Linked DNA regions of Homo sapiens: region 2 is linked to region 1. A link means that fine-mapping ties the variant in region 1 to the expression of a gene that starts in the linked region. Tissue or cell type: stomach. Region 1 holds a variant in brackets; the other region holds the start of a gene. All regions are shown on one strand. Distances are from middle to middle.

Evidence for each region. PIP is the estimated chance that this variant, and not a neighbour inherited with it, causes the effect.
Region 2: it holds the start of IYD, and the variant in region 1 is fine-mapped to the expression of IYD in stomach (GTEx, PIP 0.99).

What each region holds. Positions count from the first base shown.
Region 1 is chr6:150,098,761-150,106,933 of GRCh38, forward strand. No RefSeq gene overlaps it. Among named protein-coding and RNA genes, the nearest start is that of ULBP3, 34 kb to the left of the region's middle. The variant T/C (reference allele first, on the strand shown) is at 4,691.
Region 2 is chr6:150,365,497-150,373,669 of GRCh38, forward strand. IYD (iodotyrosine deiodinase) reads left to right here and starts at 3,516. Exons shown (of 5, transcript NM_203395.3): 1 at 3,516-3,713. The coding sequence starts at 3,536.

The sequences.
Region 1 (8,173 bases):
TCTCTTTATTCCTCAGGAGGAAAGGAGGACTTCCGAGCCCAAAACCTTCAAAAGCAAGGACTATGGTATGTCAAGGAAGGGCGCTTTGTTCTTCCTCACTCTCAAACAATCCCTATCCTCCAAAGTCTCCACAACTCAATCCATGTCGGTTACAAACCTCTCTTACAATTTCTCCGCCTTATTCTCACTCGTTCTCACCTTTCCAGCCACGTTCAAGAAATCACCCAGTCCTGCTCTATCTGCCACTCAGTGTCACCCCAGGGCTCCCTCTGGCCACTGCCTTTTCCTACCCACCAAGCCCAGGACTGGGTACCCGGGCAAGATTGGCAAGTAGACTTCACTCACATGCCGCCTGATACACAGTTCCACTGTCTTCTAATCTTTGTACGTTTTCTGGGTGGGTAGAAGCGTTCCCAACAACTTCAGAAGGTGCAAATGTCGTCACACAAACTCTCATCATGCATATAATTCCCTGTTTCGGACTCCCAACATCCATCCAGTCCAACAACGGGCCCACCTTCATCAGCCAAATTACCCAAGGTGTCTCTACATCCTTAGGTATAAAATGGGTTCTCCACACACCCTACTGGCCTCAATCTTCCGGCAAAGTTGAAAAAGTTAACTCTGTCCTTAAAGCCCAACTTACCAAGCTGGCTCTAGAAACCCACCAGGCGTGGAGGAAAAAATCTCCCTTTTGCCCTCATGAGACTCTGCACAACACCAAAGTCACCCTCTTTTTATAGTCCCTTCGAAATCATGTATGACCAAACTTTTGTCTTGGGGCCTCCATCTTACCAGACACTGAGCCACTCAGGAATTACCTCCCTTTCTTAATCCAGACACGGTCTTTCATTCATGAAGCAGCAGATGAGGCCATGCCCCTTCCTGTCAACACCTCTTTGTCCTCTCAACATAACTGTCTTGCAGGCACAGACGTGTTTATCTGCCAACCCGACCGTCACAACAACCTACAGCCGAAGTGGACAGGCCCCTACACTGTGATACTCAGCACACCAACTGCAGTGAGAGTCCAAGGACTCCCCTGCTGGATCCATCGTACCAGGGTCAATCTCACCCCCAAGGCTACTCCTTCCTCCAAAACATTAACAGCGGGCAACACCCTCAGAGTCCCTGTATACAATAACGTAAACAACAACAACAACAAAAAGATCCTTAAAGGTAGGAGGAAGCCAAAGATGGCAACGGGACGAATGACTTCTGCAACGGATCATCGAATATTATGGTCCTGCCACTTGGGCTGAGGATGGTTCATGGGGTTATCACCTCCCATATATATTCGAAATAGAATAATTAGACTACAGGCGATTCTAGAGATAATCACTAACCAAACTGCTTCAGCCCTGGAAACGCTTGCGCAACAACAAAACCAAATACCCCCGGCAATTTATCAAAACAGGCCAGCACCAGACTACTTATCAGCAGAAGAAGGTGGGGTCTGTGGTAAGTTTAATATCTCCAATTGTTGTCTTAACATAGACGATAACAGAAAAGCAGTACTAGAAATCGCTTCAAACACCAGAAAAGTAGCCCATGGACCAGTCCAAACCTGGAAGGGATGGGACCCAACAAACCTTCTAGAGAGTGGTTCTCTAATTTAGGAGGATTTAGAACGCTGGTAGGGACAGCAATCTTCATCATTGGGTTCCTCCTGTTTCTCCCTGTATTATCCCACTAATAATAAAAGCTATGAAAAGTCTTGTTGAAACTACAGTTAACCGCCAGACAATCCAGACGATGCTCCTGCTACAACGACACGACGAATACCAACCCGTCTCTCAAGAATATCCCCAAAATTCAGTTTTTCTTTGTTTCCAAGGTGCCCACGTCACCCCATGTCACGCTTGAAGCAGTTATTGAAAAAGTCGTCCCTTTTCCCTTTTTCTGTAACGAAATAGACAGGAATGAAAGACTTTCCCCGGGGCCTGGAAGCTGGGGGTGGTGGGTGAATAACTCCTCCATTCTCAGGGCCAGTCCCAAAGCGCAAGACCACCTGCGCCAGCAGCGTGCGTCAGCAGGATAGCAGAAGCAGGAAGAGAGCTGGCTGGAAGACACGTACCCCCTGAAGACCGAGAGAGAGGCCGTCCGGGTACTGCGTAGCAGTTACATCAGACTGAGACACGTCCTGTTTACAGGAGACTATAAAACCCCTGCCCCATCCTCATTTGGTGCTGACGCCGTTTTAGGCCTCAGCCTGTCTGCACCCAGGCGCTCATTAAAACAGCGTGTTGCTCCACACCGCCTTGTGCTGTTTGTTGGCGTGCTCTTGGGGTTCGAACCGATACAAGAGCCTTGCAATGATTATGGGAGGTCTTGTCTTCGTCTTCCTCCATCCTGAGTGGGGCTGGTGCTTGTTGTCTGGTGTTGATGTTCTATGAGATTATGTCCCACAGAACATCAGGGCTTAGCTGTGAGTACCAGGCCAGCTCCTGCTGCCAATAGCTTTTCTCCGTCTCAGCAACATGTCACAGAGAGCTGTGGGGAGACCTCAGCCTGGTGTACCATAGAAGGCAGGGAGATGATATGTGAACTGCTAAGTGAAGAGACCGGTTTTGAAAAGCTTGGTCCTAAGGTGTAGATCCGGTTTCTAACGCATAACTTTTTTTATGGAGGTAACATTTAGATTTAACACTCTAACTGGTACTACTAATACAGAAGCATAATTTTTCTCTAATTTTGCATAAATAAACAGGTTTAAGGTTACTTAAATGTTGACAAGAGTGTCACCTCAAGTTCTGTGTTCCTCCCAACCCCATTAACATCTTTGTGGTGCAAGTGAGGAATTTTCTCTCCTGGGAACTAAATATGGCAGATGCTACTATGTTGCAGCAAGTCCTCAGGCTGAAGGACTGGGGCTCCACAAACATGTTGGAGATGGGACATGGTTGCTTGCACTTAAGGAAAATCGCTTTCTGTTAAAACTTGCTCGAGAAGCGAGACCATTACTGTTTAAACACACAGACTTTGAAGTCAGGACAATCTGGGTTTAAATCATCCCAGGCCTCCCATTTCCTTGTTGTGTGACCTTGGGCAAGTTATCCAGTCACTCTAAGTCTTAGCTATTACAAATGTAAGATGGGGATAGATATTTCTATCCATAATTTTGTTGAGAGAAATAAACCCACTGTGACAATGGGAAACACTGCACGTCGTATGTGCACGATATGTGGCATATGTATTGATTGTTACCAGGTAATTTTCAGCCATCACTTAAATTCCAGGAGCAACCAAAGGGAAATCACAATGAACTTCTTCCTGGGAGCCATTCTTAGGTAAAGGGGTGGTGCTGATTGTTATGAAATGATTATTTCACTGGATTCAGGAGATCTGAGTTATGGCTCTGACTTGGTAATGAATCAGCTGTATAACTTTGAATAAGTCTCTTAATCTTTTTGAGCTGCAATTTGCTTATTTATAAAATGAAAATAATGATGCCAGCCCACACCACCAGAGTTATCGTGACACTGAAATGAGAGGAAGCAACAATGATCAAGGTTTTATGGCTGTACCATATGAAAAGGTATGTTGCAAAGGTACACAGCATTAGAAAATGTAAGATGCTATCAAAGAAACTTGAGTTTATCATAAATTCACTCCTCAAAAGTGGCCTTTAAAATGGGTATCTAATCAGAACATTGTTTTTGTTTCCTTTTTTGGCAATATGACATACAAAAGTACACATTTTTACACATTTTTATCTACATGTAACCACCACCAGGATTTAAAGTAAGTGTGTCCAAGGAAGACATTAAATTGTCTTTGCAGATGACATGATTTTATACATAGAAAACCCTAATGACTTCAATAAAAAACTGTTAGAAATGATAAATTCCATAAAGTTGCAGAATACAAAATCAACCTATGAAAATCAGTAGCGTTTCTATACGTTAACAACAAACTATCTGAAAAAGAAATTAAGGAAACAATCTCATTTACAATGGCATAAAAATACTTAGAAATAAATTTAACCAAGAAGAAAAAAATCTGTTCATTGAAAACTATATCACGTTTTACATTGATAAAATAAATCGAAGAAGATAGAAATAAACGCAAAGCTACACTGTGTTCATGAACTGGAAAAAATCAATAATGTTAAAATGCTCATACTACCCAAAATGACCTACAGATTCAATGCAATTCCTATCCAAATTCCAATGACTTTTTCACAGAAATAGAAAAAATGATTCTAAAACTCACATGGAACCACAAAAGATCTGAAACCGTAAAACTACTAGAAGAAAACATAGGGGGAAGTCTTCCCAACCTTGGTCTTTGCAAAGAATTTTTGCATGTGAACCAAAAGCACAGGCAACAAAAACAAAAAATGGGATTTTATGAAACTAAAAAGCTTCTGCACAACAAAAGAAACAATTTAATACAGTGAAAAGACAACCTATGGAATGGGAGAAAATATCTGCAAACCATACATTTGATAAAGAGTTAATATAGAAAATATATAAGAAACTCAAACAACTCAATGGTAAGAAAACAACTCAATTTTAAAATGGGCAAAGGACCTGAATAGACATTTCTCAAAAGAAAACATATAGAGGCAATAGTTTTAAGGAAAAATGTTCAGCATCACTAGTTATCAGGGAAATGCAAATCAAAACCACAATGAGATATCACTTCACACTTGTGAGAATGGCTATAATCAAAAAGACTCTTTTGA[T/C]AACAAGTGTCAGCAAAGATGTGGAGAAAAGAAAACACTTGTACACTGTTGGCAAATTAGTACAGTCATTATGGAAAACAGTATGGAGATTCCTCAAAAAATTAAAAATAGAACAGCTATATGATCCAGTAATTTCTCTTCTACATATAGATACAAAGGAAATGAAATCAGTACGTGGAAGAGATATTTGCACTCTCATGTTCATTGCAGCATTATTTGCAATAGCCCATGTATGCAATCAACAGACAAATGGGTAAAGAAAATGTCGGGTGGATCACCTGAGGTCAGGAGTTCGAGACCAGCCTGAACAACATGGAGAAACACCGTCTCTACTAAAAATACAAAATCAGCCTGGCATGGTGGCGCATGCCTGTAATCCCAGCTACTTGGGAAGCTGAGGCAGAAGAATCACTTGAACCCAGGAAGCAGAGGTTGTGGTGAGCAGAGATCACACCATTGCACACTCCAGCCTGGGCAGCAAGAGCGAAACTCCATCTCGGGAAAAAAAAAAAAAAGAAAATGTCATACATATATATAGTTACATATATCTAATGAATATTATTCACCCTTAAAAAAAGAAGGTAATCCTGTCATTTGCAGTGACATGCATGAGCCTGGAGAACATTATGCTAAGTGAAATAAGCTTGGCACTGAAAGACAAATACTGCATAATCTCACTTATATGTAGAATCTAAAAGAGTTGAACTCATGGAAACAGAGAGGAGAATGTTGGTTATCGGGGTCTGTAGAACGAGGATATGGGGAGATACTGGTCCAAGTTTCAGTGAGACAGGATGAATAAGTTCTGCAGATCTATTGTATAGCATGGTGACTGTAGTTAAAAATAGTGTATTATATTCCAGAAAATTGCTAAGAGTAGATCTTAAATGCTCTCTCCATAAAAAAATAAGTCAGTGAGCTTATGGTTGTGTCAATCAGCTTGATTTAATTACTTTATTGCATATACATGTTGCAAAGCATAATGTTGTACACCAGAATATATATAAGTTTTATTTGTTCAGTAAACCTTAATAAAGCTGAAAAAAGAAAAATCAATGTTTCCAGCACACAGAAGGCTCCTTCCTGACCCGTCATAGCTAACAGCCTTCCCCTTCAGAGGTAACCACTACTTTGCCTTCTCCCACCGTTGATTTGTTTTTGCCTGTTCTTTTTGTGTTTTTGTTTTGTTTTGTTTTGGTTTGGTTTGGTTTTTGAGGTGGAGTTTCGCTCTTGTTGCCCAGGCTAGAGTGCAATGGTGCAATCTCAGCTTACTACAAACTCCGCCTCCCAGGTTCAAGGGATTCTCCTGCCTCAGCCTCCCGAGTAGCTGGGATTACAGGCAGGCGCCACCATGCCCGGCTAATTTTTTATTTTTAGTAGAGATGGGGTTTCTCCATGTTAGTCAGGCTGGTCTCGAACTCCCGACCTCAGGTGATCCACCCGCTTCGGCCTCCCCAAGTGCTGGGATTACAGGCGGGAGCCACCATGCCTGGCCTGCCTGTTCTTTAACTCCATAAAAATAGCATTGTGCAGTGTGTCCAGCTTCTTTTGTTCTCATAATAACTATGAGAGTCATCCCAGTTGTGTGTATCAGTGGTTTGTTCTTTTGTAAAATGGCAAGGAGTATCCCTTTGTGTGACTATATCACGGTTCTATTACCTGTCCTAGCCATTCCACTGTGGATGGACATTTGGGCTATTTCTGTTTTTCAGCAGCTAAAAATAAATTGGCTATGAACTTTCCTTTCTTTAAAAATTTATCTTTATAAAACGTCAGATGTGTTTCATAGAAAACGTGACTTTGACACATAATGAGAAACATCAAACATTTAAAATAAAGCCTCCAAACTTAAAGGATAATGTTAATTTCAAATGACATTATTCTTATAAGTAAATGATATTATAAAGTGCAGTCTCAGGCATTATTTTTACCTATGGGACACAAACAGAATAGTCCACAGCAGGATTTTTTTGTCATACTGCAGTTTGGGGATCATTAGTGTATTCTAAGTAAAATAATAATAATAATAATTAAGAAATAGAAAATAAGAGAAAAATTCAAACTCTTTGGACTTAGTAAAGGTAGGTATTATTTCTTTTTTTTTCTTTTGAGACGGAGTCTCATTCTGTCGCCCAGGCTGGAGTGCAGTGGCGCGATCTGGGCTCACTGCAAGCTCCACCTCCCGGGTTCACACCATTCTCCTGCCTCAGCCTCCCCAGTAGCTGGGACTACAGGCACCTGCCACCATGCCCAGCTAATTTTTTTTGTATTTTTTTTTAGTAGAGATGGGGAGAGACTGGAGACCTTTGTTTAACCAAACATTTTTTTTTTAGTAGTCTAACAATAGATGTCTTCTTTTTCTATAAAATGTTCCAAATACAGGTAAATCTTTGAATTGGCCTACTAGAGACTTTTCCTTTGTAGCCTCCCCATGGAGGCTAAAATAACAGATAGAGGAGGCTGGAGGATCCAAAGTGGTGAATAAGGCCGGGCGCCGTGGCTCATGACTGTAATCCCAGCCTTTGGGAGGCCAAGAAGGGCAAATCACCTGAGGCCAGGAATTCGAGACTAGCCTGGCCAACATGACAAAACTCTATCTTTACTAAAAATTCAAAAAGTAGCCAGGTGTGGTGGCACGTGGCTGTCATCCCAGCTACTCGGGAGGCTGAGGCAGGAGAATTGCCTGAACCTGGGAAGCAGAGGTTTGCAGTGAGCCAAGATCATGCCACTGCACTCCAACTTGGGCGACAGGACGAGACTCTGTCTCAACAAACAAACAGAAACAAACAAACAAACAAAAAACCCAAAGTGGCGGATAAGAGATGTCAAATCCAGGCCGGGCACGGGGGCTCACGCCTGTAATCCCAGCACTTTGGGAGGCCGAGGTGGGCGGATCATGAAGTCAGGAGATCGAGACCATCCTGGCTAACACGGTGAAACCCCGTCTCTACTAAAAATACAAAAAAATTAGCCAGGCATGGTGGCAGGCGCCTGTAGTCCCAGCTACTCGGGAGGGTCAGGCAGGAGAATGGTGTGAACCCGGGAGGCGGAGCTTGCAGTGAGCCGAGATTGCGCCACTGCACTCCAGCCTGGGCGACAGAGCAAGACTCTGTCTAAAAAAAAAAAAAAAAGATGTCCAATCCAGATGGTGACACAGTGACCCCACACAGTTATTCCTTGGGACAATATTTTGGTCAGCAAGAGCGGGAATGAGAATTTTTAGACATCGGCTTCAGTCTTGGTTTTTGTTTTTCTTAGTAGTAATAGAGTGATAGTGTAAGATGTCTGAATATATTTGCTTGAACTAGAAAAAAAGAATACAAGTTTTCAGTCATGTGAAGAGTTCCCAACAGGGCTCACTTTTGAATGCCAAGAATGGAGTATTCCAGGGCACAAATGTCCCCCACCCAGCCCAAGAGAGCCAATCCATCCCTGGCTTTGAACACTCTCTGTAGGATTCCCAGCTCTAAATTTCCACTCAGC
Region 2 (8,173 bases), 270 kb after region 1:
TTTGCCCACACCTGGAACGGAATTAAAAGAAATTTAAAAATGTGTAAGCAAAACTCAATTGTATGTAAGAAAAACCAATTCCCCCTGAGGAAGAGAAAGAGCTGAAATCCTTTAAAAATTGACTGCCTGTTTTTCTGAGGCTAGTGAGCCTTATCTCCCCCTTTCCCAGGCATTGTGAAGACCCTGTTTCTCTAGCTGTGCAGCTGCAAGGTCACTAGACAGATAATCTCAAGTCACAAAACATGCTGTTCCTTGAAAAGTAAGAAATAATGTAATGCATGTCTTAATTGAATAACTGTCTTTGTTTCTCGTTTCTGTAATACACTTCCCCCTGCACAAATCTCCCCCCACCCCACAAAATGCTTAAAAGGTAGCTTGACTCTTTGTTGGGGGCTCAGTCTTTTGGATGTTAATCTGACTGGGTCAGTGCACCTAAATAATTAAATAATTCCTCCTCAACCCATCTCTGATGCCTTAATTATCCTGCTGCACACCATGACCTCTGCCTGGAAGGCTCTCTCCTGCCCCATGACTGATTCCCACTCACAGCTCCGACCTCAACTCAGCCATTCCTTCCTCTGGGAAGCCTCTGATTTCACCAACTCAGCCCAGTCACACTCCAGTCAGCTCCCTAGCAGCTCTTAGGGAAGTTGGAATGTGGCATTAGTATATGAGATTCGATCCGCTTGTCTCTCTGTGGCTCCTGCCTCCATGAGCATGTGCAGCCCCTACTGCCCTCCGTTCTATTTCTGGCCCCAAATGCAATGCCTTTTGCATGGATCCCAAAAAATATATTTTGAATGAATGAGTGAATGAATGAATGAAGGAATGCATGGTCATTTTGCTTTTCTTCTCTATCTTGAACCAAGCAATTCAGAGCAAGAATCTTTTCTTTCCCATTGCAAGTCACCAAACATGATGGAAAGCTGCCTTCTGGCATGGTTGTCCTTATGTTTCAGCTCCTCCGGGGCTCTCAGTGGCTTCAGAATCCCCTACAGACTCATTCTGCTGGGCACATGGTCTGAAACCCAAGAGACTCAGGCAATACTCAATTAGCCAGCCAGCTGCTGCATGCCACAGCTGTTAGCATTCCCTTCTGAGATGGGGGTGCCTCCCAGACTTCACCCACTAGTGCACTAAAACCAATTCCCACCACCCCATTTTTCCTGGGCTTAATCCTGTTCCTGACACTGATATGAATTGTGCTTTTGTAGTTACAGGCACCGAGGATCTTTCTGATTCTTCGAAGGTAAGGAGACACATGGGCTGAAACCGAGGCAGGCCTGGGACCTCCTAGGAGCAGAGGCAGTTGCCACCCATGGCCCTCACCTTGTCCTTCCCCTGAGCTGTGAGGCATTGCTGCCTTGCAGGCCTTGCTTCTCTCTGCACATTTGTCTTGCTCTTCTCTTGCTATGGAGTGGTTTCTTTATTCTGTGTTTTTAGTGGGATGTAAAGAGAAGCTGGGCCCCAACACAGGCTCTGCCATTTTCAGCTGCCTGCGTGGGGTTGGATCACATGGACTGGACATGTCCCCTCTGACACCCTTTCAGCAGGCACAGGGAGGGCACTTTCCTGTACAAAAGCTGTCGGCATGGCAGGCAGCACCACCAAATTCAATGGTCTGTGGAGGCCAGTGCTTCCATAATAAACTTTGTTTATTATCTTCTACAGAGTTCTCTGGAGTTAGAGAACCAATATGATATACATCTTAAAAAACAACTGTCTATCACAAAAAGGAGTATTACAATATATGATACAATAAAACCATCAAAATGAGTATTGAAATAAATAACACATATTCAATTTTTTAAATAGATAATATATTTACAACAGCTCAAAATACTTAAATTATGGAATAGTATTCAGTAGAAATTCTCTCACCCTTGTCCCCCATCTATCCAGTTTCCACACTCCCTCCAAAACAAGTAACCACTGTTTTTTTCACTGTTTATTTTGAAATAATATAGACTCACAAGAAATTGCAAAATTAATAAAGAGAATTCCTGATATAACCGCTCCTTAGAGTATGCTTTTCCAGGAAATACATATATAAGTTTGTATAAATGTATCATATTTTCCACTCTGTTTTATTCAAATGGCATCATGTTATACATACGTTTGCACCTTGATGCTAAAGACTGAATATGTCTTGGCAAAATTCATGTGTTGGAGCCCTAAGCCCCAGTACAATGGTATTTGGAGGTTGGGCCTTTGGGAGGTGAACAGGTGATGAGAGTGGAGCCCTCATTAATGAGATTAGTGGCCTTATAAGAAAAAAGATGATAGAGATGATCTGTTTCCACCATCCACTGTGTGAGGTTACAGCAAGAAGGCACCTGTTGGCAAACCAGGAGGGGAGCCCTCACCAGGAGCTGATTTGCCAGCACCTTAATTATGGACTTCTCAACCTCCAGAACTATGATAAATAAATGATAAATAAATTTCTTTCTTTCTTTCTTTCTTTCTTTCTTTCTTTCTTTCTTTCTTTCTTTCTTTTCTTTTCTTTTTCTTCTTCTTCTTCTTTCTTTCTTTTTTTTTTTTTAGAGGAACTTTCACTCTTGTCGCCCAGGCTGGAGTGCAATGGCACAATTTCGGCTCACTGCAACCTCCACCTCCTGGGTGGAGCTATTTTCCTGCCTCAGCCTCCTGAGTAGCTGTGTTTGCAGGCATGTACCACCAGGCCCAACTAATTTTTGTATTTTTAGTAGAGATGGGGTTTCATCATGTTGGCCAGGCTGGTCTCGAACTCCTGACCTCAAGTGATCTGCCCCTCTCAGCCTCCCAAAGTGCCGGGATTATAGGCATGAGCCACCATACCTGGCTGAGAAATAAATTTATATTGTTTAAGCCACCCGGTCCATAGTATTTTTGTTATTTCAGCCATAACTGACTAAGGCACTTTCTAAAACAGACAGACAAACTAACACATAAAAAGCCCTACTGAAGTAATTACATAATCAAGTTGTCACTTTAATTTTTTGTGTCACTTTTCCTGGATCAAAGTTTTTCTCTGATGCAAAACATGATATTCTCTTTACTCCATATATTGGCTCAGGTATCATAAAAAAAAAATCAAAACCCTAGGGCTGTTTTCACAAATATGCCATTTAAAATGCATGGTGCCAAACCTCTTTCCTGAACATTTTCTTCCAGCAGATCTGAGTTGGTGTGTGGAAATCTATTTAAAAAAAACAAAAACAAAAACAAGTTCTTCAGGTGATCTAGCTAGATCTAGCACATGCAAGTTCTTACTCAGATTCTGGCAATTGTTGTCTAAGAATATATCGACAGAGTACATACTTTTAAAAAGTTAATGGACTGGTGTATAACCAAAGCCACAACACCCCACACATGTGACTGTGATCTTTGCTCCTTTGCAAAGTCCTCACAGAGTTGAAGAGTTCTGCACTTTGTTCCTTCCCTGGCACACCTGTGTCTGCATTCCTTCTATCTCCCGGCATTCTCCACTCCTGTCTCTGTGTGTTTAAAAACCGGTGTGGGAAGTGTGCACGCCTGTGACGTCAGACTCCAGACCATGTATTTCCTGACTCCCATCTTGGTAGCCATTCTCTGCATTTTGGTTGTGTGGATCTTTAAAAATGCCGACAGAAGCATGGAGAAAAAGAAGGGGGAGCCTAGAACCAGGGCCGAAGCTCGCCCCTGGGTGGATGAAGACTTAAAAGACAGCAGTGACCTGCACCAAGCAGAAGAAGGTAAAGACACCAGCTATGCTGCTTAGCTTCGCTGTCGTGTTGTGTTGATGATGAGTGTGAGTCAATGGCAGGGCTTATGGAGAGGAAGAAACACACACAGGCCAGCTTCAACATCAACCTCTATTGTGCTAATGAATCAGTGCTTGGCACAGACAGGTCATCTCTCTCCAGTGATGAGCTTGTCACCTGCTGGGACCAACCCTTTTTTATTTTTGATGCCCAGTGAAAAAGCTGTTGAGAGGCTGAAGTTTTCCCTGGCTACAATTCTGTTCTGGTTGTTAAAATCTTTCTGCAGGAATTCATCCCAGGCTGGCAGTGGGCAGGGACTAAGAGGCCAGGTTTTGATCAGGAACTTTGAAATCTACCAAGTGGCATCACCTAGGAGGCTGCTACCTTTCCCTGTGCCAGGCCCTGGAAGTGAAAGCCTGGGATGGCCTCTGTCCTCAACAAACTGAATGTCCAGTTCAGCTGCCAAGATGATACACTAGAATCAGAGAGAGTAACAAAGAGACAGACCCGGTGGAACTGATTCTAAGGTGTTTAGAGTAGGCCTGGGAGTTTGACGGTGCAGTCAGGGAAAGGACAAACCAGGCTGGGAGGATGAATAGGGTACAAATAGCAAGTGCTGGGAGGCCTGTCAGGCAACAAGGAGCCAAAGGAGCAGAAGCACCTGGAGGCCTGGGGCAGGGGTAAGAGAGGAAGTGGAGAATTGAGGGTGGAGGGAGAGGGTAAGAATGGAAGTAGAGAATTGAGGGCGGGAAGGTTATGGCCACCTTGAGAAGAAGAGGTGATGAAGGAGGCAGGTAGGAAGGGAGAGAGCGTGGAGGAAGCTTGAGCCATCTGTGTTTGAGAAGCTTTGTCTGGGATGGGTTCGATTTGGAAGAGGCTCTGTGATCTTCAGCTGGGCTAATGATGCCCCCATCCCCAAACAGAGGCCACCTGGACATGTGAGTGTGTGTGAGTGTATGTGTGTGAGAGTGTGTGTTTATGAATGTGCATGTGTGTGTGCGCGTGCGTGTGTGTGTGTGCATGAGAGTGGATGTGTGTGCGCGTGCATGTGAGTGTTCATTAATGTGCATGTGTGAGTGTGTGTGCATGAGTGTGTGTGCACGAGTGGGTGAGTGTGCGTGTGAGTGTGCACGTGTGTGCATGAGTGTGTGTGAGCATGCATGAGTTTGTGTGTGCATGCATGAATGTGTGTGTGCGTGCGCATGAGTGTGTTTGTGAGAGAGTGTGTGCATGAGTGTGTGTCCTAATCTCAGGACCGGGGCGCAGGGTGTCCAGCTGGCTCTCAGTGCTAACAGCCTGTAGTGCTGACTGCACCGTACAGGAGTCTAGCCTCTCAGCAGGGCTGCCTCTTGCTCTCCTACATTGAAACCTCTTCCACTCAGAACGTCAATTCTACCCAGCGGAGAAGCACTTCCCTTAATCCAGGGAACATCTGCTGTGAAGCTGGGTAATGGTTTGTGCTGGTAAGGATGGCCTGGATGGTGGGGGCAGGTGGGAATGCAGTGGAAGGCGTGGATCAGAGTAAAGTTAATGGAAGAGCAACAGGGTTTGCTAGTAAATTGGATATTGGGAAAAGGAGGAGAGAGGGAGAGTTGGAGACTGGAAGCTATCATAAGTGGGTGAGGGAATGAGGATCCAGCTTAAAGGGGAAGATGTTGAGTTCCATCGAGGACATGTTTGATTTCAGACGACAGTGACACACCTGAGCAGAAAAGGGAGACAGCAGTCTATGTTAGGGGCCCAGGCCACAGATACTGACTGGAGAGTCACCAGTATGGGGAAGATACTTGGAACCTGGAGAAATAATGAATCCACAAAGTGGGCATTGCTAGAGAGAAGGCTGAGGATAGAACTTGAGGGACACATGCGGTTAAGAGGAACTGTGGAAGAAAAATGTACTAGAGAAAGGGAGGAGCTGTGGGAAAGGGGGCTCTGGGATCATAACAGTAACAAGCCCTTATATATTAATAGCTCTTAATGTATGCAATCACAGCCACATATTATGTGTAGTAAATCATTTCATCTTCATGACAGTACAATGAGGTAGGCACTATTAGAATCCCCATATTACAGATAAGGAAATTGAGGCCCCAATAGGGTAAGCTCAGGAAGGTGATTGCAGAGATAGGACCCAAGCCAGCTGTTTGCTGGGCTGCCTCTCCCCTGGGAGAATGACCTAGAATGGAGGAGGCAGGAGATAGCCAGCAGGGACCAACATTCTCTGAGAGACCAGAAAGAGTGTGCATCAAGGAAAGGCCACTGGATTTGAAGACCCAAGAGGTTTGAGGACACAGGAGAGCTCGGGCAGGCTGTTGAGGGTCAGGTCCTGGGGCTGGGCCTGGAGGCTGGGAACATAGAGCAGAACTGGAGGGCCTTTCTCTGGCTCTCTGCCTGATCACTTACTTTTGCAAAATGCTTTGCCTCTTCATTCTCTGTTCCCTGCCATCCTCATCCTTGTCTTATCTTTATACAGAGGAATGAACAGGACAGCCTTAGTGTCGTCCTTAGCAGCTGGGACAAAGTCTGCCCTGAGTGTGGTGTCCACAGATCTCTTGTATGGGGATTCTAATAGGGCCTACCTCATTGTATTGTCATGAAGATGAAATGATTTACTCCACATCTCTTATGTTGTTTACATAAGTGGTGCATGCCAAGGTCACACAGGTGACCAGTGAGAACCAATGCTTAAACTCAGGCTTCTCAGCCCCCCAAGTCCCTGCTCTCAGTCACAGGGTGGTTGGACATGATCTACGTGGGGATATTACTCTAGGTCCAGAAGGGATTGAGCAGGAGCTAACTGGAGAAGAGAACGGACTCCTTTACTGAAGACACATGGAGTTGGTGTTGTTGACTGCAAATAGATACCAGATTGAAACCATTTTTAATATTAACAAGGTATTAAATGGTAAAATAAGTATTGTAGGCCATTCTAGCATGAGTTAAGGAAAATATGGGTACCCATCCAACCTCCTGCAGCTCTGATTCACAAAGAATTCCTACTGCATGTTCACAGGTCAGAGAATCGGCATGTGTGTGTGTGGGTGGGTTGTGGGGTGGTGAGGGGTCATTGTGTGACCATGCTTATTAGACATGTGTGTGTGGGTGGGGTGGGGGGTGGTGAGGGAACATTGTGTGTCCATGCTTATTAGACATGTGTGTGTGGGGGTGGGGTGGGGAGTGCTGAGGGGTCATGTTGTGTCCATGCTTATTAGACATGTGTGTGTGTGGGTGGGGTGGGGGGTGGTGAGGGAACATTGTGTGTCCATGCTTATTAGACATGTGTGTGGGGGGGTGGGGTGGGGAGTGCTGAGGGGTCATGTTGTGTCCATGCTTATTAGACATGTGTGTGTGTGGGCGGTGTGGGGGGTGGTGAGGGAACATTGTGTTGGTCCATGCTTGTTAGACATGTGTGTGTATGGGTGGGGTGGGGGTGGTGAGGGAACATTGTGTGTCCATGCTTATTAGACATGTGTGTGTGGGGGTGTGTTGGGGGTGGTGAGGGAACATTGTGTGACCATGCTTGTTATACATGTGTATGTGTGTGTGGGTGGGGTGGGGGTGGTGAGGGAACATTGTGTGACCATGCTTATTAGATGTAGGGTACAGTCTCCCTTTGCAAACCAGCCAAGGTTGGTGTCCTGTTAATACCTTGTTTGTCTACAGTTAGGGTCCAAGAAAGAAGAGTTGCTGAAGTTTATCTCAAAGAAATAAGTCTCAGATTGTCCCAGTAAAGTGAACTGAAAATCCTACCCACAAATCCTCTAGTTAGGCTCAGATTCATAGAAGTCCATAGAAATGGGAAAAGAAGAAAAAGATAGGAAACACATCTCATCAAGATGAATCTGTTTTAGTGTTAGTGGGGGATTCTTCTGCACTTAGCTTCACTGGCCATCCAAAAGCTATTATTCTAACTGAAGTCACTAGCTGAATAATAAGTGACCCAACTTGTCCAGTCTTTTCTAAGAAAGGCCTGAGTTAAAATTTTTTATCCAGTGTGAGTAACATCTGAGAACAAAAATGTTCCTACAAACTTGAGAAACAGATTGTTATGTGCCCATAATAACAAGTAGCTTTCAAAACTGGTTCCAAGCCTGAGCAGTGAATCAATGACAACTCATTTCAGAATAAACTTGGCAAGCTAACCAATCAGTGTCAGCCTCATGCTTCTGAAAGCCAGCCAACCAGGGGTGCACTCACTCCAGGGCCAGCTCCTCTGAGTGTCAGAGTCTCAACCAAATGACACTGATCCTACAAATGATGTGTGCCACTTGCAGCTCTGAAAGTCCACCAGTGCCTGAACTTCATGCTCCCCAACCAAGTAGCATACTAGGGCGAGTCTCTGGGGATTAGCAGGAGCCAACTGTTAAATATTTAGGAGTTTTTTGTTAAATCATTAGTGGCTTGAAGTCACGCCATGGTGTGATTATTTACATCAGTGGATACTGGCAAGT